Linked DNA regions of Homo sapiens. The protein of the gene in region 7 purifies or fractionates together with the protein of the main gene of each other region. This does not show direct contact. Each region holds a gene or a part of one and is shown on either strand. Other genes may lie near its edges. The genes, in order: NDRG1, DFFA, TF, PGAM4, SNAP23, DTD1 and SH2D4A.

Evidence for each region.
Region 1: the proteins of SH2D4A (region 7) and NDRG1 fractionate together in Homo sapiens (co-fractionation; one large-scale study listed by BioGRID). This does not show direct contact.
Region 2: the proteins of SH2D4A (region 7) and DFFA purify together in Homo sapiens (co-immunoprecipitation; one large-scale study listed by IntAct). This does not show direct contact.
Region 3: the proteins of SH2D4A (region 7) and TF purify together in Homo sapiens (affinity purification with mass spectrometry; 3 studies listed by BioGRID and IntAct, with this or other methods). This does not show direct contact.
Region 4: the proteins of SH2D4A (region 7) and PGAM4 purify together in Homo sapiens (affinity purification with mass spectrometry; one large-scale study listed by BioGRID and IntAct). This does not show direct contact.
Region 5: the proteins of SH2D4A (region 7) and SNAP23 purify together in Homo sapiens (co-immunoprecipitation; one large-scale study listed by IntAct). This does not show direct contact.
Region 6: the proteins of SH2D4A (region 7) and DTD1 fractionate together in Homo sapiens (co-fractionation; one large-scale study listed by BioGRID). This does not show direct contact.

Annotation. Positions count from the first base shown.
Region 1 is NC_000008.11:133,248,753-133,252,252, forward strand, and holds part of NDRG1 (protein NDRG1), read right to left. Parts: intron 1,792-3,500; coding exon 1,688-1,791; intron 20-1,687; coding exon 1-19. UniProt on the Homo sapiens protein: Stress-responsive protein involved in hormone responses, cell growth, and differentiation. Acts as a tumor suppressor in many cell types. Necessary but not sufficient for p53/TP53-mediated caspase activation and apoptosis.
Region 2 is NC_000001.11:10,466,030-10,469,529, forward strand, and holds part of DFFA (DNA fragmentation factor subunit alpha), read right to left. Parts: intron 3,310-3,500; coding exon 3,148-3,309; intron 1,304-3,147; coding exon 1,161-1,303; intron 1-1,160. UniProt on the Homo sapiens protein: Inhibitor of the caspase-activated DNase (DFF40).
Region 3 is NC_000003.12:133,770,393-133,773,892, reverse strand, and holds part of TF (serotransferrin isoform 1 precursor), read right to left. Parts: intron 3,386-3,500; coding exon 3,321-3,385; intron 1-3,320. UniProt on the Homo sapiens protein: Transferrins are iron binding transport proteins which can bind two Fe(3+) ions in association with the binding of an anion, usually bicarbonate.
Region 4 is NC_000023.11:77,967,449-77,970,891, reverse strand, and holds PGAM4 (phosphoglycerate mutase 4), read left to right. Parts: upstream 1-1,253; coding exon 1,254-2,018; 3' UTR 2,019-2,943; downstream 2,944-3,443.
Region 5 is NC_000015.10:42,512,634-42,516,133, reverse strand, and holds part of SNAP23 (synaptosomal-associated protein 23), read right to left. Parts: intron 3,180-3,500; coding exon 3,138-3,179; intron 2,736-3,137; coding exon 2,687-2,735; intron 898-2,686; coding exon 780-897; intron 1-779. UniProt on the Homo sapiens protein: Essential component of the high affinity receptor for the general membrane fusion machinery and an important regulator of transport vesicle docking and fusion.
Region 6 is NC_000020.11:18,759,054-18,762,553, forward strand, and holds part of DTD1 (D-aminoacyl-tRNA deacylase 1), read left to right. Parts: intron 1-3,500. UniProt on the Homo sapiens protein: Possible ATPase involved in DNA replication, may facilitate loading of CDC45 onto pre-replication complexes. An aminoacyl-tRNA editing enzyme that deacylates mischarged D-aminoacyl-tRNAs.
Region 7 is NC_000008.11:19,320,193-19,323,692, forward strand, and holds part of SH2D4A (SH2 domain-containing protein 4A), read left to right. Parts: intron 1-3,500. UniProt on the Homo sapiens protein: Inhibits estrogen-induced cell proliferation by competing with PLCG for binding to ESR1, blocking the effect of estrogen on PLCG and repressing estrogen-induced proliferation. May play a role in T-cell development and function.

The DNA.
Region 1 (3,500 bases), about 110 Mb from region 7:
AATCTCCAGGTCGCGCCGGCTGCAGGAAACAAATGCATCATTAGCATGAGGACCCCTCCCCTGGAGAAATCTCCCACTCCCATCCAGCCAAGCCCAGGAGGTCCTGCCAGTGGCCATTCTGGTAAGCTACCCACATCCCCAACTTGAGAGAGGCCCTGTGGCTTTCAGGACTCCACACCCTCTTGGTGTCCACAGACCTGGTTAGAGGGACAGCACAACACATGCATTTCAAGCAGAGCCCCCTCATTTTGTCACAAATATTTGTGGGGCTTTTTTTTCCAGGAGTAGAAGTCAGATTCTCCACCATAGAGGGTCCCCGCCTTCCCTGTCCCCCTAGTCAGAGCCCCCACCTGACAGAGGGGCCACCTCCCAAATGCTCTCGCAGCCTCTTAGTTTAAGTCCCAGCCTCACCAACTCTGAGTCCTCTATAAAGCACCCAAATGATCTCTTTAAAACTCAGGCCTCATCTTTCCATTCCCTGTCTCAAACCCTGTGGTGGTTTCCCACTGCACTCGTGTGAGGCCCAGTGTGGGTCCAGCCCAGTGCCGACCACCTTTCCTGCACGCAGCCACCCACCCTCTCTGCTATCTTGCAGCTCCCAACATGAGAAGCTCTTTCCCAGCTCACAGCCTGGAGTTAGACAAGCAGGATCCAAATCATGCTCTGCCACTTTCTAGCTGTGTGGCCTTGGGGAGAACACAGGATCTCTTTGCGCCTTTGCTTCCTCAACAGGAAATGACAGTAATTCCAGGACCTTCACAGTGGGATTTGGAGAGGGGTCAGTTAATTACGGTGCTATCTACACGGGCAAGTTAACAGTGTGGAGTCTGCGGGCTGTGCTGGTTTCCTCTGTGTCTCCAGCGCCCAGCCGAATGCCTGACTCGCTCCAGTTCTCAGAAAGTGTTTACTAAGTGAACCGCACTGCCAGGTTTCGGTTTCTTCAGTCACATCCACAGTGAGGATGTTACCACTGAGATGAGGGCAGGATTGTAAAAGGAGGCAGATACTAAGCTCTGTTACAAATGTTAATTTCAAGAAGTCACTTTATTAACATTTGAGCAGAGATAAACACTATGAGGCTCATTTCTATCTCCTGTTCTGCGAGCGTGGCAGAGCGAGCTCAGCAGGTTGAGCGAGCTCCCTGGAAGATTACAGAGTCTCTGGCTGACACCAATGGCCCTGAGCTGTCTCCTCCCCTAGCTGAGCTCCAGATAAGCACCTAGTGCTGGTTGAGAGGGCCACGCCTTAGGCAAAGGCCATGTTCAGGTCCTCCTTATCCTTGGAATGACAAACTCCCAGAAGCCTGCCTGGATTATCCCCGGCCTCCAGGAGTGCTTTGCTGCTCTCTCACTTAGCTCTTCTTACATTTGGCCTTTCGTGAAGGTCAGCAGCGGGCACACATATTTACTCTCAACCCTCTGAGTGTGCGACTGCGTCCCTCTCACGTCTGCACCCCCAGTGGTCTGGAGTGTTTGTTCAGATCCCTGCAAGGCGAGCTGAATGCCAGGAACCAGCTTACAGGCCAGGTGTCCTTCCTGGGGACACCTGTCCTATTAATCTATTTGCTCAAACTCAGAGCCTGCCTCTTCCGCTCATTTTATACTCTCCCTCTCATCTGTCCCACATTTCGGATCTACAGAAGACACCTCATAAATAGCAATGATGTGGCTGAACTACATCCCAATACCTGTTGTAGGCATTGATGAACAGGTGCAGGTTGCCGGGGTTCATGTCATTCACAATGTGCTGGCGGTAGGTGTGGACCACTTCCACGTTACTCTGCATTTCTTCCTGCATTTAGAGAGGTGAGAAGATGGTCCTCATCGCACTGTGGCCCTGAGCTGGTCACTACTCTCTCCATTCTCCAGGTTATTTGGAGACAAAGTAAAGATAATAATGCCTAATCCACAAGACAGCGACGGACCTAAAAAAAAAACCTTTGGGAAAGCAACACGCCCAACCAGGTGCAGACAGGGGTTTCACTATCCGCTGGGAGCAGAAAAGACCCCCATCCTGGAAAGGCCACACCCCACCCTTCCAAACTCATTACTTTGGGAGTTTCAATTTGAAGTCAGACATCCTGGATCTAGAGCTTAGCTTCATCACTGTCCCTTTCGTAGGCAAATCTTTCAACCTCTCTGAGCCTCAGATCTCTTAAAAAAAAAAAAAAAAAAAAGGGAAGAGAGAGAATGTTGCCTACTTCACTAGGTTGTAGGACTTAATGGAGGTTGTGTTCTCACCTCTACTAACAGTAAAAATTGGAGGCAAATGTTAGTAATTGTTTTCCAATGGGAAGAGCTGAAAAGAAGTTTTTCATGCTTGAAAAGCAAAATCAACTCATGCCACAGGAAGTTACTGAAAAGAAGGGCAATTGCAACTCCCACCACGGCCAACCAGAGCCTTGGGGAAGTCGGCCTCAGCCTCCCCGTCTCTGGGTGCTTTTTGAATGTTATTTGCGACAAACAACTTGTTTGCTCTGTTTCTCATTTGTACGAGGGCAGACACTGTAGGTTTCACACAAGGGTCTGATATGACCAGTGGCAACCAGATGAGAAGTTGGAGTTGGGGGTCAAAGAAAGCCGGTGTCAAGCTTGAGCTGCATCAAACAGTCCAGGATCATTTAGGCAGCAAGGAGGTCAACTGGCTACTAAGAGCAAACTCTGGAAAAAATAGTCAGGAATCACGCTGGGATTTCAGATCAAAACCAACTATAGCGATCTGGGGGTACCCTCAGACACCATGGCCGGACCAACCAGTCTCCAAATAACTTGGGGTATAATCAGATCAGATGCTCAACGCTATGTCTGACATCCCTCCTCCAGTGAAACAGAGACAGTGGCTGTGAATTTTTCCCAATTCCTATCAGTTTCAGATTACACACTCAGGACAGGGAAAATGTGTCACACGCTGTGGAATGAATCGTAAAAGGGGAAAGAGGACTCTAGTGGGCTAAACTGTGGCCCTCAAAAGATATGTCCATGTCAAATCTCTTGAACTTGGGAATGCAAACTTGCTGGGAAAAAGGGTTTTTGCAGGTGTAATTAATTAAGGATCTTGAGATGAGATAATCCTGGATTACATGAGCCGGGATGAAATCCAATGGAAAGTATCCTTAAAAGAGGAAGGAGAGGGAGAAATAAAACAGACACAGAGGAGAAGACCATGTGAAGACAGAGGCAGAGAGTGGTGTGAGCAGCCACTAGCCAAGGAATGCCGACAGCGACCTGGAGCAGTAAGAAGCAAGGACGAATTTCCCCTGGAGCCTGTGGCGGAGGGGCGGCCCTGCCAGCGCTTGACATCGGAGTTCTAGACTCAGAGCTGTGAGAGAATACACTTTTGTTTTCCTTTTTCTCTGTTTTTGAGACAGAGTCTCCCTCTGTCTCACCCAGGCTGCAGTGCATGGCGCGATCTCGGCTCACTGCAGCCTCTGCCTCCCAGGTTCAAGTGATTCTCCTGTCTCAGCCTCCCGAGTAGCTGGGATTACAGGCGCGTGCCACCAC
Region 2 (3,500 bases), on a different chromosome or scaffold from region 7:
CTCAGCTACCTGAGAGGTTGAGGTGGGAGGATGGCTTGAGCCCAGGAAGTCGAGGATGCAGTGAGCTATGATCATGCCACTGCACTGGGTGACAAAGCAAGACCCTGTCTCAAAGAGAAATTTTCTTTGAATGAAAACATACTGTTTTTATCCCAATCTTTTTTTTCTTTTTGAGATGGAGTCTCTCTCTGTCACCCAGGCTGGAGTGCAGTGGTGCGATCTCGGCTCACTGCAAGCTCCACCTCCTGGGTTCAGGCGATTCTTCTGCCTCAGCATCCCGAGTAGCTGGGACTACAGGTACAGGTGCACACCACCAGGCCCGGCTAATTTTTTGTATTTTTAGTAGAGATGGGGTTTTACCATGTTAGCCAGGATGGTCTCGATCTCCTGACCTCGTGATCTGCCCGCCTCGGCCTCCCAAAGTGCTGAGATTACAGGCGTGAGCCACTGCACCTGGCCTATCCCAATCTTACTAGAGAGAAAACACAAGGAGAGAAGCTAAGCTACTGGCTCAAAGTCGTGGTGACAGCGCTGGGATGTGAAGCCATCTACTCCAACGCTACATTCTCTAGCAGGGCATCCCTGACCCCAGCGTCCACCTAACTAGGTTTAGGGTGGATCCCAGGCATTTGTATTAAAAAAAAAATCTGGCCGGGCACGGTGGCTCACGCCTATAATCTCAGCACTTTGGGAGGCTGAGGCAGGTGGATCACTTGAACTCAGGAGCAGCCTGGCCAACATGATGAAACGCTGTCTCTACTAAAAATACCAAAATTAGCCAGGCGTGTTGGTGTGCACCTGTAATTCCAGCTACCTGGGACGCTGAGACAGGAGAATTGCTTGAACCCGGGAGGTGGAGACTGCAGTGAGCTGAGATTGCACCACTGCACTCCAGCCTGGGCGACAGAGTAAGACTGTGTCTCAAAAAAAAAAAAAAAAAAAAAAAAAAATCCACAGGTAATTCTGCTTCGTGACGAGGGTTGAAAAATTACTCTAGGTGAGAATGAGAAGATGAAAAATCTTAGTTGTAATTTAAGAATTATTTAAAAATTAAGATTAAAACAAAGAAATTGCTATGGCAAGTATGGAAGCTAAGAAGGTGCTGGGGCGGGGGGCAGAGGCTGGATGAACATTGTTGCAGGTTGTGGAGGAGGCTTTACCTGGAGGTCCTCCTCTGATAGGAGGATGATGCTGGACAGATCTTCTTTCAGCTGCCTGGCCACATTCTTCCACTTCAACCCTGCCCCGCTGTCTGTTTCATCTACATCAAAGGACTCTTGGGAAATCCAAGCTGTACCTCCATCTGACACATGGGAGAAAATGCCAGTCACAGAACAACCTGAAGTGCTGTTTTCACCTCCTCCCCCAGCACACACAGACCTCTTGAGGATCTAGATTAATTTCAATGGGAAAGAAGCATCTTATCTCAAGGATTCACAGGAGGGTCAATATCCATCCAGGACCTTGATTTTCCCTCTTCTTTCATTTTTTTTTTTTTTGAGACAGAGTCTCACTCTGTTGCCCAGGCTGGAGTGCAGTGGCACGATCTTGGCTCACTGCAACCTCCACTGCCCGAGTTCAAGCGATTCTCCTGCCTCAGCCTTGCAAGTAGCTGGGATTACAGGTGCCCACCACCATGACCAGCTAATTTTGGTATTTTTAGTAGAGACGGGCTTTCACCATGTTGGCCAGGCTGGTCTCAAACTCCTGACTTCAAGTGATCTGCCCACCTCGGTCTCCCAAAGTGCTGGGATTACAGGCATAAGCCACCGTGCCTGACCCTCTTTCATCTTTATCTCTGTGTGCAACGGCTCTGTATTCTTCCATAGAAAAAGCCATTTAAACCCAATGTGTGGTCACACCTACAAGGAATCCAATCACACTTCCCTTTCTGGTTTCTGTGTGTCCAGGTGTGTCCTGTTTTTTATACGAAAACGGTCATTTGTGCCAGCATTTCTCTGTGCTTGGGGATTGGTCCCTTCTTTAACTGGCAGAGCTGTAGCCATCGATTGCTGTCCCTTAGGCCTGAGCACAAAGGTGGCTGGTAGGGCCACTGCTGTAGGATGACTTCCTCAATTTTGTGGCACACTTCAGGACACTTTTTTTTTTTTTAAGTCCCTCCCTAAAACTAATCCCCTCTCAAGACACTTCTTGATCCTTGGTCACCAATGTTAGTCCCCTTTCTATCTCCTGTGATGATGATGATGGCAGGGACAGGTAACAATTATTGAGTCCTTAACTATGTGCCAGGTAAGATCTAAACACTTCATATCAGTGGTTCTCAAGTGGGAGCAATTTTGCCCCCCAGGAGACATCTGACAATATCTGGAGTCATTTATTCTTGGTTATCACAGTTGTGGGGGGAGGTTCGTAACATCTAGGATGCTACTAAACGTCCTATCATACACAAAGCATCCTCTTCACAACTCCAGCCCCAAATGTCAGCAGTGTCATTGAGAAACCCTGGTTTGATATGTACTATATTATCTTTACAACAATCTTAGGGGACAGGTTCTATAATTATTATGTCAACAAGGCACTGAGAAGTTATGTAATTTGCACAAGGTCACCTGGTTAGTAAATGGTAGAGCCAGGATCCAGACCTCAACAGCTGGACTGCAGCCTGCAGCACTGAGCTCCCTGCCAGGCTGCATTTCAGTTGCTGTCTGTCCATGAGTTAGTTGAGAACTGGGCCCATGTCTCATTCATCTATTTTTTTTTTTTTTTGAGACAGAGTCTCGTTCTGTCGCCCAGGCTGGAGTGCAGTGGCACAATCTCAGCTCACTGCAACCTCCACCTCCCAGGTTCAAGCAATTCTCCCGCCTCAGCCTCCCAAGTATCTGGGATTACAGGTGCCTGCCACCATGCTCAGCTAGTTTTTGTATTTTCAGTAGAGATGGACTTTCGCCATGTTGGCCAGGCTGGTCTCAAACTCCTGAGCTCAGGTGATCTGCCCACCGTGCCTGGCCTCATTCATCTTTATCCCCAGGACTCAGCACCATGTCTGGCACATAGAAAGTGCTCAGTAAATATCTGTTGAACAAATGCTTAAAAAGCCAGACAAATGGCAATTGTCTGTGCAGTGAAAGTAATCATGATGGATGCTGTACTGCATAGGCCGTTTTATACATGGCTAGAGTTTCTTACCTGAATTGTTGTATGCCCATTTCTCATTACTAGCCAATGCCACAAACTTAGTATTGGAAGGTAGACACAGAAAGTAATCGTCATCATCCACTATGGTGCCATCCTCTGCCAGGACCAGGGTGACTGGTGTCAGGGACTTATCAATGGCCAGAATGTCACAGGCTGAAAAGAATAAAATATTTGGCAAATGACAAATAACCGTAAGGAAATTACATCTATCCCTGCATCTCAAGTATGTATGGCTCCAGAGCTGAGCAGAACTCCTGGTAGGTAATAACTAGAATCACAATCATCACTTCTAGCACTACCAGAACACTCATCACGTGCCTGATTCTGTTCTAAGTGTTCTTTTC
Region 3 (3,500 bases), on a different chromosome or scaffold from region 7:
TAAGGGAGAGAGGAGACCGCCTCTGGAACCATCTCAGGCAGTAGGGTATGTGAGGCACTCAGGCAAGAGGAAAAGTGGGTTTGTGAGGACTTATGAATGGAAATTGATGTTAATGAATGAGCCAGAACCTAAAGGTAGAAAATTAAGAAAAATCAAATGGGAGGTGATTCAGTCTGGCTAGGAGGGCATCTAGAAGGGCATGTTAAAAATATGCTTTTTCAATAAAAATAATACACGTTTATTGGTGGAAATTTATAAAATGCCACGTAAGTATTGGGAAGAAAATTTTGAAGCATTTGTAATTTCATAGTCTACGCCTTCAAAATTGGTACATTTCTAACATTCTTTTTCCTACACACACCTATAATATGCACATACACACACACACACACACACACACACACACAAATTGTGATAAAAGAGCCCATGTGGGCTGAGCGCGGTGGGTCACACCTGTAATCCCAGCACTTTTGAGAGGCCGAGGTGGGCGGATCATGAGGCCAAGAGATGGAGACCATCCTGGCCAACATGGTGAAACCCCGTCTCTACTAAAAATACAAAAATTAGCTGGTCGTGGTGGTGCACGCCTGTAGTCCCAGCTACTTGGGAGGCTGAGGCAGGAGAATCACTTAAATCTGGGAGGCGGAGTTTGCAGTGAGCTGAGATCACATCACTGCACTCCAGCCTAGCAACAAAGTGAGACTCCATCTCAAAAAGAAAAAAAAGAAAAAAAAAAAGCCCACGTGGTTTTGTGTCTTCCTTCTTGTATATACCATAGCACTTAAGACAGATTTTGGAGGAGGGAGAGAGGGGGGCAAGAGTTGAAAAGCTACCTGTTGTGTGCTATGCTCACTACCTGGGTGACAGGTTCAATCATACCGCAAACCTCAGCATCATGCAGTATACCATGTAACAAACCTGCATATGTACCCTCAATCTAAAATATAAGTTGAAAAAGCAACAAATTAATAACAGAAGAAGGTAAGAAGGTGCAAAATATAAGTATGATGAATCAGACATGATGTGACTTACATTTAGTAATATTTATCAGGAATGTGATATTAAGTCAGGGGTATTAGACCAGTAGTTCCCAAACTTACAATACATCAAAATTACTTTGGCTCTTAAAAATCATGTTGTCTACCTTAAATACACACAATTATTTCAAAATTTAGTTTGAAAAAAGACACGTTTTGAAGAAATAAGATATTGACTGACAGACTTAATCTAGGCCTGATGGGCAGGGAGTATAGCAGGATTCTCTATAAGGATAGAGGCTGGGAGAAGAGGAGGGAACGTTGACAGAAAGATGAGGACAGTTGAGTTGTATATGGATTGTATATATACAACTACAATATATGAGGACATCCATATACACACGTAAAAAAATACAATTGCAATGCCAATGTACTCTCTACATAAAAGTGACACCTTGGGAAATAGACTGGAATGGAATTGAGATTGGATGTCAGGCCTCCTATCTTAATTCTATGCAGGAGGGAAGAATTTTTGAGTCATTGCAAAGAGTAAGAGAGTCAAAGCTTAAAGAAGGGAGCTCTACTCAGAAAAGTACCAAAAGAAATCAAGGGTGGCAAAGAGCCAAGCTTAGGGTAACACTCTCTTAAAGGAAAAAGCAATAATACGAGGGAAGAAAGGAAAATTAGTCAACCCAATATTTCTGCAAACAAATTCTTAGCAACTGCTGTGTACTATGTGCTACACTAGGTTCTGGGAATATAAGATGAAGAAAAAGAGCTCAAAGAGTTTCTGTAGCCAAAGTGTATTACAGAGTGTGGTGAATTCAATCATAATGGCAATATGAACAGAGGAGTCTTCTTGTAGGACAGGGTATGCCATCTGGGAAGGCTTCCTGGAGGGGCTGGTGCTGAGCCGGTTCATTCTGGATGAGTTGCCCAGGAAAAGTGAGGAGTTGGGGAATGAACATGAGAGAAGGCAGGGAAGTATTCACAGCTTGAATTCCAGTGGGCTCTGCTAGCACTTAGTGATACTGAGGGGTCAGGTGTGGAGTGCTCAGTCTGGCCAATGTTTGTTTTGCTTTGTTTTGTTTGTTTTTATTAATATTATGGCTGTCCAACGTTCACCCACAAGTTAACACCCATTGATTCTTTTTTTTTTTTTTTTTTTTTTTGAGACGGAGTCTCGCTCTGTCGCCCAGGCCGGACTGCGGACTGCAGTGGCGCAATCTCGGCTCACTGCAAGCTCCGCTTCCCAGGTTCACGCCATTCTCCTGCCTCAGCCTCCCGAGTAGCTGGGACTACAGGCGCCCACCACCGCGCCCGGCTAATTTTTTGTATTTTTAGTAGAGACGGGGTTTCACCTTGTTGGCCAGGATGGTCTCGATCTCCTGACCTCATGATCCACCCGCCTCGGCCTCCCAAAGTTCTGGGATTACAGGCGTGAGCCACTGCGCCCGGCTTAACACCCATTGATTCTTGCTTGAATCAGTTATCAATATATTGGTTGCCAAGTGATAGTTTTCTAACTCTATCATTCCTTCCACATTGATTAGTTTTCCCTTCTTCATTTGTTTAATCAGTATTGCCTCATGCATTCTTATTTCTTTCAATGGGCTATTATCCCTTACTGCTATCATTATTTATTTTAATGCTCAAAATTCCCAGACTTGGCAACAGGAGATCCTTCAAATTGGTTCTTGTATGCTTTGAGTGTCCCATCACTGTTTGAGCACTTCAGTGTGTTGTTCTAGGCTCAGCATCTATTTTTCCTGCCCCAGCCCTGAAGTCAGCTATTTTTCCAAGGAGTTCTGGTTCCTTTTAGTAAAGAAGAGTACTTACAAGCCAATATCTTGGTGCTTACTCCTGCTGGTATGCCATTGCCTCTAGGCCTTCTCAATGGACACAACCCAGAAGTACAGTAAATAGCTATAAAAGGCATTACTGGGATAACTGACAACAGTTAAATGTGGACTGTGGACGTGACGAGTATTAAATCCACATAATGTAAAAGATCCTGATCTTGGTAATCATACTGTGGGTATGCAAGAGATTGTCTTATTCTTAGGAAATAGGCACTGAAGTATTTAGGGGAAAGGAGCACAAGGCTTGCAGCTGTGGGAGTGTGTGTTGGGGAGGATTTAGGGCCATTGGGGGCCCCATAATCCTGATCATTCTGCGCACTCAGGTGAACATGTCTCTCTTCACTGAGCAGACAGACTGAGAATCAGAGCTTTGAAGTCTGACAGTGTACATAATACTTCCACAAAGGCATCCCTGAATACAAGTGAATACCAGTGACCAGGATCTAGTGATCTAGGGGGACAGAGGAGCAGGTGCACTTACCCCCAGTGTTCTGTGGGACAGTCTGGTGTTTCACAAAGGCCACATCTCCCTTCTCAACCAGACACCTGCAGAGGTCCAGAAGTGGGAGAGAAAAAAAAAGGCGGTCAGAGTGACTTATCTGTCATTCAGGGGGCTACCTTATAGATTCAGGACAGCCATCTGAAAACAGCAACTGTAACT
Region 4 (3,443 bases), on a different chromosome or scaffold from region 7:
GTACCACCTTCTAACATACTCCATAACTTGCTGATTTATTCTGTTTATTGCTTATTGTCTGCCTTCCTGTGGTGGTTTTAAAATACGCCCACAAATTCTTTGCTACTCCTTCCTTCAAGAGGTGGAATTTAATCCTTTCCCCTTCGGTGTGGCCTGAACTTAATGACTTGTTTCTTGTTTTTTGTTGTTGTTGTTGTTTTGGTTTTTGTTTTTGTTTTTGTTTTTGAGACTCAATTCTGTCTCGCAGGCTGGAGTGCTGTGGCACGATCTCAGTTCACTGCAACTTCCGCCTCCCGGGTTGAAGTGATTCTCCTGCATCAGCCTCCCCAGTACCTGAGATTACGGGCGCATGCCACCACACCCGGCTAATTTTTTGTATTTTAAGTAGAGACAAGGTTTCACCATGTTGACTAGGCTGGTCTCGAACACCTGACCTCAAGTGATCCACCCGCCTCGCCCTCCCAAAGTGCTGGGATTACAGGCATGAGCCACCACACCTGGCCTAATGACTTGTTTCTAATGAATAGACTACGGTAGAAGCGACAAGGTGTGACTTCCAAGACTAGGTCATAAAAAACATTGCAAGAGGAGAAAAAAGCATTGTGTTTTCCTTGTTGTCCTCTCTCCTGAATCACGCAATCTGGGGGAAGCCACCTACCAAGTATGAAGACATACAAGCAGCCTTATGGAGAGGTTCATATGGTGAGGAACTGAGGCCTCATGTCAAAAACCAGCAAAGACCTAAGGCCTCCCGCCAATAGCCAGGTAAGTGAACCACCTTGGAAACTGCTCCTTCAGACCTAAGTTAAGCCTTTAAACTACTACATCCCCAGACACCATATTGACTACAACTTCATGAGACACCCTGAGCCAGAACTACCCATCTAAGCTGCTCCCAAATTATTGAGTCATAGGAAATGTGAGATAATAAATGTTTGTTGCTTTAAGCCACTAAATTTTGGGGTTATTTGTTACACTGCAATAATTAAGTAATACACTTCCCACTAGAATAAAAACTCCATGAAGATAGGACTCTGTTTTTTCACTGATATTAGGCTGAACCACATGAAATCATCATAGTCAAACACCGGCAATTTCATATAAATCAATCTAATATATCCCATGGAAACAGTGGTTCCTCTGGTGAGGGGAAATGAGTGGTTAGGGAATAAGGGTGGGAAAAAGAATTTTCAGCGTATAACCTTTTGTACCTTTTACTTCAAATGGTATAAAAAGTATTGCAGCCCACCGCCATGGCCGCCTACAAACTGGTGCTGATCCGGCACGGCGAGAGCACATGGAACCTGGAGAACCGCTTCAGCTGCTGGTACGACGCCGATCTGAGCCCGGCGGGCCACGAGGAGGCGAAGCGCGGCGGGCAGGCGCTACGAGATGCTGGCTATGAGTTTGACATCTGCCTCACCTCAGTGCAGAAGAGAGTGATCCGGACCCTCTGGACAGTGCTAGATGCCATTGATCAGATGTGGCTGCCAGTGGTGAGGACTTGGCGCCTCAATGAGCGGCACTATGGGGGTCTAACCGGTCTCAATAAAGCAGAAACTGCTGCAAAGCATGGTGAGGCCCAGGTGAAGATCTGGAGGCGCTCCTATGATGTCCCACCACCTCCGATGGAGCCCGACCATCCTTTCTACAGCAACATCAGTAAGGATCGCAGGTATGCAGACCTCACAGAAGATCAGCTACCCTCCTATGAGAGTCCGAAGGATACTATTGCCAGAGCTCTGCCCTTCTGGAATGAAGAAATAGTTCCCCAGATCAAGGAGGGGAAACGTGTACTGATTGCAGCCCATGGCAACAGCCTCCAGGGCATTGCCAAGCATGTGGAGGGTCTCTCTGAAGAGGCTATCATGGAGCTGAACCTGCCGACTGGTATTCCCATCGTCTATGAATTGGACAAGAACTTGAAGCCTATCAAGCCCATGCAGTTTCTGGGGGATGAAGAGACGGTGTGCAAAGCCATAGAAGCTGTGGCTGCCCAGGGCAAGGCCAAGAAGTGAAGGCCAGCGGGGAGGATACTGTCCCCAGGAGCACCCTCCCTGCTGGTCTTGTCCCTCTGCCCCTCCCACCTGCACATGTCACACTGACCACATCTGTAGACATCTTGAGTTGTAGCTGCAGATGGGGACCAGTGGCTCCCATTTTCATTTTAGCCATTTTGTCGCCTGCACCCACTCCCTTCATACAATCTAGTCAGAATAGCAGTTCTAGAGCACAGGTTCTCAGTCTAAGCTGTGGAAAAGCTCCCCTTATCCAACAGAGTTTAAAAGTAGTGACTTGGGTTTTTGTGAGTGCTTTGTTTACTAAGGACTTTGGGGAGGAACATGCTAAGCCACGACCAATGAGGAGAAGCAACAGAGCCTGTCTGTCCCCATGAGCAGAGTCTGTCCTCTGCTCTTCTGCAGTCAGGCCACTGCCTGGGGGCTCTAGTCATTCCAGTGGAAGATGAATGTAATCTGCATGGTGATGTGACAACTGTTTCCTCCTTGACCCCAGAGGATCTGGCTCTAGGTTGGGATCAATCCTGAATTTCGTTATGTGTTATATTTACTTTTATTAAAAAAGTATAGTATATATTAATAATACAAAACAATAACCCTTCTGGGGTTTCTTGTGGCGGTTGAAATAGTCCCACATGTGGTCATCAGAAAATAAGCCATTCCTCATACCAATATAGGATCAGCTCCTTGACCTCTGAGGGGCAGGAGTGCTTCCTGGTGTGTGTATTAGAATCCCTTCCTGCCTTGTTTCATGGCAGTGAAATGCCTCTTGGTCCTGTCCAAGTGTGTCTTTCACTGATTTCTGAATCATGTTCTAGTTGCTTGACCCTGCCACATGGGCCCAGTGTTCATCTGAGCATAACTGTACTAAATCCTTTTACCAGATCAGTATAATAAAGGAGTGATGTGCAATTAAAAAAAAAAAGTATTACAACATCATTTTAGTTTTGGTGAGCTCAGAGAAACTTAAGCAGAAAATGCTGAACCATGCCCGCTGCTACTAACAAAGCAAGATGATTAATGGACTCTTGTAACTTCTCCAACTAATTTCTGTGGAGCTTTGAACAATTAGACCACCCAGTCTATGGTATTATGTTATGGAAGCCTGAACTAAGACATATGCATTCTTTTTTAAATTGGGATATAATTCACATGCTATAAAATTCAGCCTTTTAACCTACAGAATGGGAGAAAACATTTTGCAATCTACCCATCTGACAAAGGTCTAATATCCAGAATCTACAAGGAACTTAAACAATTTACAAGAAAAAAACAACCCCATCAAAAAGTGGGCAAAGGATATGAATAGACATTTCTCAAAAGAAGACATTTATGCGGCCAACAAACATATGAAAAAAAGCTCAACATCACAGATCATCAGAGAAATGCAAATCAAAACCACAATGAGATACCATCTCACACCAG
Region 5 (3,500 bases), on a different chromosome or scaffold from region 7:
GATACTGTCGTTTCTTTTTATACTCCACTCCAATCTGTCAACTCCTTAGTTTGGCATTCAAGTTCCTCTACTACCTACTTATATCTTACTTTCCACTTCTCATCTACATGAGTCACACAGCTCAGTTAAGTCAAGCTCCTTGTTAATCTTTATTTTGAACCTTTCATAGGAAATGCCCTCACTGTTCCTCCCTGTTCATCCAAATCCTTCTTATCACTCAAAGCCCAATCCACATCCTACCTCTTCTATAAGATGCTCTCCAACCCAACCTTTATCAGTTCTGTATACCTAGCCTTGGTCACTATCATATAATCTAACATTAGATTTAGCCTTGCTCACTATCATATAATCTAACATTAGATTTATGTATTTTTTATGTTTTGCCATTCTTTCCCAACTCTTCTACTCTTTTGGCCATCCCTCATGTGCCTACCACAAAATATATATTTTGTTAATACTCCTCCTTTGAAAGGAAAAGAAAATAACTCCATCCTGCTTTCCATCATCCAGATATACATTTCCCTATACTTCCTAACCTTTTCATGTATTACTACAAATTGAAATTGGACTTGATCCCAGGATTGGTCAAATGTAAGTCACAGTTTTCAGTGAACACGCAGTATTTACACAAAAAGCTTAATCTGCCTGAAGGAGAGACAACTTAGATTTATCTAATAGAGTTCCTCATTAAGCCCAGTCATACTTCTGACCTTAGCTGGTGGGAGAAGGTGGGGTACTCTCATTACTTATTTTGAAACCATCTTAATTTATCAACTCACCTATTACATGGGCAGACACAAAGGCCACAGCATTTGTTGAGTTCTGTTAAAGTCTTCTCTGTCTCTCTCATGTCCTTATTTATTTGGTCCAAGCCTTCTTCTATGCGGTTTAGTTGTTCTAAGAATAAGTTGTGAAGTTAACACTTTGTGTTCCATTCACAGTGTCAACCAGAAAATGCTATTATTATGGAACAGCAAACTTCAACCTTGAATCTACCAATAACTCCCCACAGTGAGTATGTCAGTGTCAAAAGGTATTAGAAGCGATTCAACATGATAACAATCTTTCACGTACTGATCCGGAGGCACCTAGCCTCTTGCTGTGGAAAAATTTGTTCTAAAAAGCTTGTATATGGCTGGGTATGGTGGCTCACGCCTGTGATCCCAGCACTTTGGGAGGCCGAGGTGGGCGATGACCTGAGGTCAGGAATTCAAGACCAGCCTGGCCAACATGGTGAAACCCCATCTCTACTAAAAATACAAAAATTAGCTGGGTGTGGTGATGGGTGCCGTAATCCTAGCTACCTGGGAGGCTGAGGCAGGAGAATTGCTTGAACCCGGCAGTTGGAGGTTGCAGTGAGCTGCGATTGCACCACTGAACTCCAGCCTGGATGACAGAGTGGGACTCCCGCTCGAAAAAAAAAAAAAAAAAAAGAATCTTGTATAGTAGGACCAAGGGACGGTTATTTAGAGATCATCCTTACAACCAAGTTAAGGGTACTTTGACGAGGTCAAATCCCCATCATTTCTATAATAGGTTCAAAACCTGAGGGCTATTATAAGAGTAATAAAAACTAGACCTGATTACTCAGGGCCAACTCAACTCAAGTGTTTCCAAGCATACCTGAATCTAGATCTGTTTTAGAACTTGATTTCTGAGGATGATGTAAGAATATCACAATGTCTGGCCAGACACGGTGGCTCACGCCTATAATCCCAGCACTTCGGGAGGCCGACGTGGGCGGATCAAGTGACTCTTGAAGTCAAGAGTTCGACATCAACCTGGCCAACATGGTGAAACCCTATCTCTACTAAAAACACAAAAAATTAGCTGGGTGTGGTGGTGGACACCTGTAATCCCAGCAACTCAGGAGGCTGAGCCAGGAGAATCACTTGAACGTGGGAGGTAGAGGATCCTGGAGTAAGCCACGATTGCACCACTGCACTCGAGCCTGGGTGACAGAGTAAGACTCCGACTCAAAAAATAAAAATTAAAAAAACAAAACAAAACAAAACAAAAGGCCCGGCACGGTGGCTCACACCTGTAATCCCAGCACTTTGGGAGGTCAAGGCGGGTGGATCACCTGAGGTTAGGAGTTCGAGACCAGCCTGGCCAACATGGTAAAACCCCGTCTCTACTAAAAATACAAAAACTTAGCCGGGTGTGGTGGTGGGCACCAGTAATCTCAGCTACTCAGGAAGCTGAGGCAGGAGAATCACTTGAACCCAGGAGGAGGAGGTTGCAGTGAGCCAAGATCACGCCATTGCACTCCAGCCTGGGCAAGAAGAGCGAAACTTCATCCCCCACCCCCAAAACTAGACAAAAATAGCGAAACTCCGTCCCCCACCCCAAAAAAAAAGAAAAACATAGTTGGGTGTGGTGGCAGGTGCCTGTAATCCCAGCTATGTTACTATCATAATGTCTAAGGCACATATAACCAATACACAAAATAAGCCATGCTGGCCTAACACATACTTGGTATATACAATTGGGCATTGTTGCCTGCCATCCCAAATAGACAGTGAACATGATATATAATTCAAATCAGAAGACAAGAAGTAAACATAACATTCTTATTTTACAAAGGGAAGGCTCTCCCAAAGGCTGAAATTTGTATGTGGCTAATTTGATAGGGCTTTTTGGCATCACAGTCAAATTAAGAATTTCTGCTAATAATTTAACTTACCCTTTTGTTCATCCAGCATAGTGATGGTCTTGATTCCTGCATCCTGAGACTAAGACAAGGGGGGAAAAGCTGATAGTACAACAAAACAAACCAAAAACAACAGAAACAAAACCTACAAGAGCAACACAGAATAATTTAGAAACCCAAGCTCTCAGAGGATTAGAGCTACAGACAGAACTAGTATTCTTAAACTAACACACTTTAACATAGCAGCCCCCAAAATAATTAAGTCACAAACTCATAGTGAATTCATCTTCCCTGTCATATTCCAATACTGTTAAAGGGAAAAACAGAAAATTCCCATTAGTGCATGGTTTGACATTTCAGCAACTGTTAATTTCAAATAATAAAGCATATTGATACATTACCCTTTAATACTAATTCCAGCCAGAAGTATTAGGATCGCTCCTATAAATTTCTATACTTAAGTTGATGACTAACATTTTCTTACCTCAATGGCTAAACCCAGGATTCTCCTCGTACTTTCCAGAGACTAGGAAAGAACACAGAATTTTAGCATTCCAAAATATGTAGAAAAAAAAATCTGATCACAGGCCAAATTCATGATGCTATTCTATCTTTAAAAATTGCCAGCTCAGGCCGGGCACAGTGGCTCATGCCTATAATCCCAGCACTTTGGGAGGCCGAGGCAGGAGGATTTCTTGAGTACCGGAGCTCAAGACCAGCCCAGACAACATAGTGAGACTGTTTCCATTAAAGGAAAAAACAAAAAGAATTGCCAGCCTATCCTTCCCTTTAAAACAAAACAATGGCCGGGTGTGGTGGTTCAAGCCTATAATCCCAGCACTTTGGG
Region 6 (3,500 bases), on a different chromosome or scaffold from region 7:
CAACCCCTGCCTTTTTTTGTTTTTTCATTTGCTTGGTAGATCTTCCTCCATCCTTTTATTTTGAGCATATGTGTGTCTCTGCACGTGAGATGGGTTTCCTGAATACAGCACACTGATGGGTCTTGACTCTTTATCCGATTTGCCAGTCTGTGTCTTTGAATTGGAGCATTTAGCCCATTCACATTTAACGTTAATATTGTTATGTGTGAATTTGATCCTGTCATTATGATGTTAGCTGGTTATTTTGCTCGTTAGTTGATGCAGTTTCTTCCTAGCCTCGATGGTCTTTACAATTTGGCATGTTTTTGCAGTGGCTGGTACCTTTGTTCCTTTCCATGTTTAGTGCTTCCTTCAGGAGCTCTTTTAGGGCAGGCCTGGTGGTGACCAATCTCTCAGCATTTGCTTGTCTGTAAAGTATTTTATTTCTCCTTCACTTAGGAAGCTTAGTTTGGCTGGATATGAAATTCTGAGTTGAAAATTCTTTTCTTTAAGAATGTTGAATATTGGCCCCCACTCTCTTCTAGCTTGTAGAGTTTCTGCCGAGAGATCCGCTGTTAGTCTGATGGGCTTCCCTTTGTGGGTAACCCAACCTTTCTCTCTGGCTGCCCTTAACATTTTTTCCTTCATTTCAACTTTGGTGAATCTGACAATTATGCGTCTTGGAGTTGCTCTTCTCGAGCAGTATCTTTGTGGCGTTCTCTGTATTTCCTGAATGTGAATGTTGGCCTGCCTTGCTAGATTGGGGAAGTTCTCCTGGATAATATCCTGCAGCATGTTTTCCAACTTGGTTCCATTCTCCCCGTCACTTTCAGGTACACCAATCAGATGTAGATTTGGTCTTTTCACATAGTCCCATATTTCTTGGAGGTTTTGTTCGTTTCTTTTTATTCTTTTTTCTCTAAACTTCTCTTCTCGCTTCATTTCATTCATTTGATCTTCCATCACTGATACCCTTTCTTCCAGTTGATCGAATTGGCTATTGAGGCTTATGCGTTCGTCACATAGTTCTCGTGTCGTGGTTTTCAGCTCCATCAGGTCCTTTAAGGACTTCTCTGCATTGGTTATTCTAGTTAGCCATTCGTCTAATCTTTTTTCAAGGTTTTTATCTTCTTTGCCATGGGTTCGAACTTCCTCCTTTAGCTCGGAGTGGTTTGATCATCTGAAGCCTTCTTCTCTCAACTCGTCAAAGTCATTCTCTGTCCAGCTTTGTTCCATTGCTGGTGAGGAGCTGCATTCTTTTGGAGGAGGAGAGGTGCTCTGATTTTTAGAATTTTAAGTTTTTCTACTCTGTGTTTTCCTCATCTTTATGGTTTTATCTACCTTTGGTCTTTGATGATGGTGACGTACAGATAGGGTTTTGGTGTGGATGTCCTTTCTGTTTGTTTGTTTTCCTTCTAATAGTCAGGACCCTCAGCTGCAGGTCTGTTGGAGTTTGCTGGAGGTCCACTCCAGACCCTGTTTGCCTGGCTATCAGCAGTGGAGGCTGCAGAACAGTGGATATTGGTGAACAGCAAATGTTGCTGCCTGATCGTTCCTCTGGAAGTTTTGTCTCAGAGGAGTACCCGGCCGTGTGAGGTGTTAGTCTGCCCCTACAGTGCGGTGCCTCCCAGTTAGGCTACTCAGGGGTCAGGGACCCACTTGAGGAGGCAGTCTGTCTGTTCTCAGATCTCAAGCTGCATGCTGGGAGAACCACTACTCTCTTCAAAGCTGTCAGACAGGGACATTTAAGTCTGCAGAGGTTTCTGCTGCCTTTTGTTTGTCTGTGCCCTGTCCCCAGAGGTGGAGTCTACAGAGGCAGGCAGGCCTCCTTGAGCTGCGGTGGGCTCCACCCAGTTCGAGCTTCCCGGCCGCTTTGTTTGCCTACTCAAGCCTCGGCAATGGTGGGCGCCCCTCCCCCAGCCTTGCTGCCACCTTGCAATTTGATCTCAGACTGCTGTGCTAGCAATGAGCGAGGCTCTGTGGGCGTAGGACCCTCAGAGCCATGCGCGGGATATAATCTCCTGGTGTGCCGTTTGCTAAGACCATTGCAAAAGCGCATTATTAGGGTGGGAGTGACCCGATTTTCCAGGTGCTGTCTATCACCCCTTTCCTTGGCTAGGAAAGGGAATTCCCTGGCCCCTTGCGCTTCCCGGGCGAGGCGATGCCTCGCCCTGCTCGGTGTGCTGCAGCTACTGTCCTGCATCCACTGTCCAGCAATCCCCAGTGAGATGAACCCTGTACCTGAGTTGGAAATGCAGAAATCATTCGTCTTCTGCGTGGCTCACACTGGGAGGTGTAGACTGGAGCTGTTCCTATTTGGCCATCTTGGCTCCACCTCTGATAATTATTATTAACATAATGCTTTGGAATACTTTTTCTAAACAGGTAATTCTACATCTGTTTCTCTAACTTTACAAAGTTGGAGACATACTGTATATATATAGTGTCACCTGTTTTTTATCTTTTAACAGAATATCTTTAACATTTCTCTAGGTCATTCTTTTACTGTGAGCTTTATAATTTCCATCTGCACATCAAATATTTGAAGACTAAATTATCCCAATGCATTAAAAATGTAGAATATTGTAGAATATTTAATTGAAGTAAATGTAAAAGAAAAATACGTTCAACCAGGATTCCAAAGCTCATCTTAAGTTCAAAAACAAAGATTTTAATCTGTGCCAAGAAGATGGAGTTTCTCAAAGGTCAATGTGGGGAACAATTACAGTATTTCAGTTATTGGTATTGAAGGTAGGGAAACAAGTATGAATAGTCCCCAGGTCCGTAACTTGGGTTAACATCATCCACACAATGTAAGAACAAATGGGTTGTTTCTAATAGCTAAAAACTGAAAGTAATATGGTCCCCAGGAATGATGTTGTCTGTTCTCCACCCACTGGTTGTCTTTTAGAAAACTCTTAGGAAGGTGTGCAGGACTCTTACAGGTGGGTTTGGGTGTACGAGGGTAGCCCTTGGGGATATGGTGGCAGACAGAGCTGCAGAGCATGGGCTAGCTGTGGTTCCAGCTTGCCTTTCTCATGTGTGCACAGGGACTTCGCTATCCAGCTGGGCAGGGGAATGAGGGCTGTTAGTCTATGGAAGCATCTGCTTGTGATACAACCCTTTCTTAAGAAGGTGGCCTGCACTGAGTGTATCAGGAAGCACATCCATGGAGGTGGCACTGCCATGGCATATTGAGTCGTATTGAAATCTTTTGCTTTTACTGAAGTCCATCCAATTAGAATCTAGATCTGAGGGAATAGAAACTCTTCTGTTAGGCTTTAGCTTTAGTTTAACTTTTGGATGACAAATGCATGCATCATAGATCTCGGCAATACTAGCTGGTTTTTGTTATAGCCTCGGAATTACAAAAGGAAACCCTGAGACACTTGGACTTCTGTACCAAACAGCCAGGCATCCTTTGAGTAGTATTTAAAATGTCGCAAGACTAAGCATTTAGTTTATTCCCTCCCTGTCCCTGCATTTCCTTAAGCTCCCATCCCTCTACCTCCCTCATTGTT
Region 7 (3,500 bases):
TAAGGAAAAAAATCATAATACTATCTTTTTTTAGTGTGAATGAGTTTCTCAGATGTAAACTTTTCCTCGTTATCAAAGGAATCTCTGGTAGTTTGAGAGGGTTCTTTTGAGACCATGGGGGAGGAAATCTTTGTACATTAAGACTTAAAGCAGACAAGGTGCAGTGGCTCATGCCTGTCATTGCAGCACTTTGGGTGGCCGAGGTAGGAGGATCACTTGAGTCCAGGAGTTCTGACCAGCCTGGAAATATAGTGAGACCTTTTCTTTAGGAAAAATAAAAAATTAGCTGGGCATGGTGGTACATGCCTATAGTCCCAACTACTTGGGAGGCTGAGGTGGTGTAATTGCTTGAGCTCAGGAGATCGAGGCCACACTGAACTGAAATCACACCTCTGCACTCCACCCTGGGTGACAGAGTGAGACTGTGTGTCAAAAAAAAAAAAAAAAAAAAAAAGACTTAAAGCATATACACATACAGACACAGAAAAATACACATTGTCCACCCTCCTCACTCCGTTCTCACTAACCCCCACACCCCCGCCTTGCTGTTTACATGCGAAGTCTGTCATGGGTGAATACCAAAGTTGTGAAAACACAGCACACTTTTCAAGGTCACTTGCAGAGGCATCTAAGACCGTCTCTTTTCATGTTTCATTAAACCAGGAAAATAAAATTTTGTAAAATCACATATGGTTTCAAAGATTGAGAAAATGAATCTCTCTTGCATCCCTGGTATATGCCCAGGTTCACAAAGGAGGTCAGTGTAGCGTCCTTTACTTTTTACTGTCTTTTATTAAAACTTTTTTCCAGTGATGCCTTTATCATGACAAGGAAATAAACAGAAATATGTCATTTCCTCTTGTTATGATCAATACAACTATTTATGAAACACCTCCTGTTTCAGACACTATGTGAAGCACATTTATGCATATAATGCCTAACCTTCACAAAACTTCTGCAAAGTCAGCAGTGACAGTCCTGTTTTACAGATGATGAGACTTAGAGAAGTTCATTTTTTTTTTTGCTTGTTTGTTTGTTTGAGATGGAGTCTCACTCTGTCGCCCTGGTTGGAGTGCAGTGGTACAATCTTGGCTCAATGCAACCTTCGTCTCCCGGGTTCAAGCAATTCTCCTGCCTCAGCCTCCCAAGTAGCTGGGATTACAGGCATGTGCCACCACACCCAGCTAATTTTTGAATTTTTAGTAGAGGTGGGGTTTCTCCATGTTGGCCAGGCTGGTCTTGAACCCCAGACCTCAAACGATCTGCCCACCTGGGCCTCCCAAAGTGCTGGGATTACAGGCCTGAGCCACTGAAGCTGGCCATGAAACTTAGATAAGTTGAGTAATATATGCAAGGTTATACCACCAATAGATGCCCAGTTCTGTTGGATTTTACATTATTCTGCACTATCCAAAATACAACTTTTCCTCCAACAAATAACATGGCCAAACTGAAACATAACTCTTTTTCTTTCTAAACTGGTTTATGCACCTTCTTGGATTCCCCAGTCAGAGTTTTTCAGATATAATTGGGTCTCTTCTGGGCACCATGTTCACTGTGAACATAACATATATTAGTGTGATGGGGTGACCTTGGGGACTAGCAGCCAAAGGGTTCTTGCCACTAGAGTCAATGGCCCAGACTCTGTTAGACTTTGGGTTTCTCGTGTTTGCTGAATTGGTCTCCTTGTGATGACTTAAAATAATAATTTCAGTTTCTTTGCTTACATTTCTCGCTTGTAGGGTTTTGAATCTACCTCTCAGAAACCCTGTGTTAACTTTGTTAGTCAAATGATCATGAGAAAAGTATGTTAATATAAGTGGGGAAAGTTCTATCAATATCTCACGTCAAAAGTGTATTACTCCCTTAAATTGAAAACTTGGAAAAATATATTTTGCATTAAATTAGTTCCTCTTCTGACTACAGAAAGGGAAAAAGTTACTCCCACTTCCCCTAAAATCCCATCACTTCTCTTTCATCTTGCGCTGTCTTTGAAGATAAAGCCATAGACCGTCCAAAGCAATGCTGTCATGGCTGGTGCTGCCAGAGGTGCTTATCTGTGCTGCAGACCTGCTAAGCCCATGACCCTTGTGGGTTGACAGGTCACTCGTGCATCTGATCCCTGAAGGCTTGTGCTCCCTGCCTCCCCTTCTCCCGCCTTTCTGGTTAGTACTGAGCTAAGTGCTGCTTTTTCTTAGCAGTTCTTAGCCACACGGTGGTTTTGAAGGTTGTTCATTTCATTAAAAACATCATAGGCCACCCCTGCCATTCCTTGACCCCCTCTAGCTTATCACTTAGAAGTTCCTTCATTGTCATCTGGTCATTTTTCACTACGAATACACAGACCCCTGTGCTTAGTGTTTGGGGATCATCACTAAAATTGTTGTGTATTGTGCATCACAGAAACTTGTCTATTATTCTTTTTTTTTTTTTTTTTTTTTAAAGACAGAGTCTTGCTCTGTCTCCCAAGCTGCAGTGCAGTGGTGTGAGATTTCAACTCACTGCAACCTCTGTCTCCCTAGCTGCAGTGCAGTGGTGTGACATTTCAACTCACTGCAACCTCTGCCTCCCAGGTTCAAGCGATTCTCCTGCCTCAGCCTCCTGAGTGACTAGCTGGGATTATAAGCACCTGCTACCATGCCCAGCTAATTTTTGTATTTTCAGTAGAGACAGGGTTTCACCATGTTGGCCAGCCTGGTCTTGAACTCCTGACCTCAAGTGATCCACCCACCTCCGCCTCCCAAAGTGCTGGGATTACACGCATGACCCACCGTGCCCGACTTGTCTACTTGTTAGTAATCTGAAGGCTGAAGTAGAAGGGGCTGAAAAACTATCAGCATGTGAATTTAACTTAGTACTATATGAGAAGATCATTTCTGATTTCTGTAGTGGGAGAATGTGATACTTAGGGAGAGACGTATGGATCTACTCTGCTTGCTGGGGTAGCTAGAGGTCTACAGCCGCACCGTCCAGTGCAGTCACCACAAGCCACATGTGGCTCTTGAGCACAGGAAATGAGGCTAGTCTGGATTGAGGTGTGCTATACATGTAAACTACCGGATTTCAAAGACTTGGTAGAAGGAAAAGATAATGCCACATTAATAATTGTATATTCCTTATATATGGAACTGATGATATTTTGTATATCTTGGGTAAAGTAAAATACTTAATTTCACCTGTTCCTTTTGATTTTTTTTTTTTTTTGAGACAGAGTCTCTTGCTCTGTCTCCCAGGTTGGAGTACAGAGGCATGATCTCAGCTCACTGCAACCTCTGCCTCCTAAATTCTAGCGATTCTCCTTTCTCAGCCTCCCAAGTAGTTGGAGTTACAGGTGTGCGCCAGCACACCCAGCTAATTTTTGTATTATTAGTAGAGATGGGGTTTCACCATGTTGGCTAGGCTGGTCTCAAATTCCTGACCTTAGGTGATCCACCTGCCTCGGCCTTCCGAAGGGCTGGGATTACAGGTGTGAGCCAGGGCACCCGGCCTCCTTTTGATTT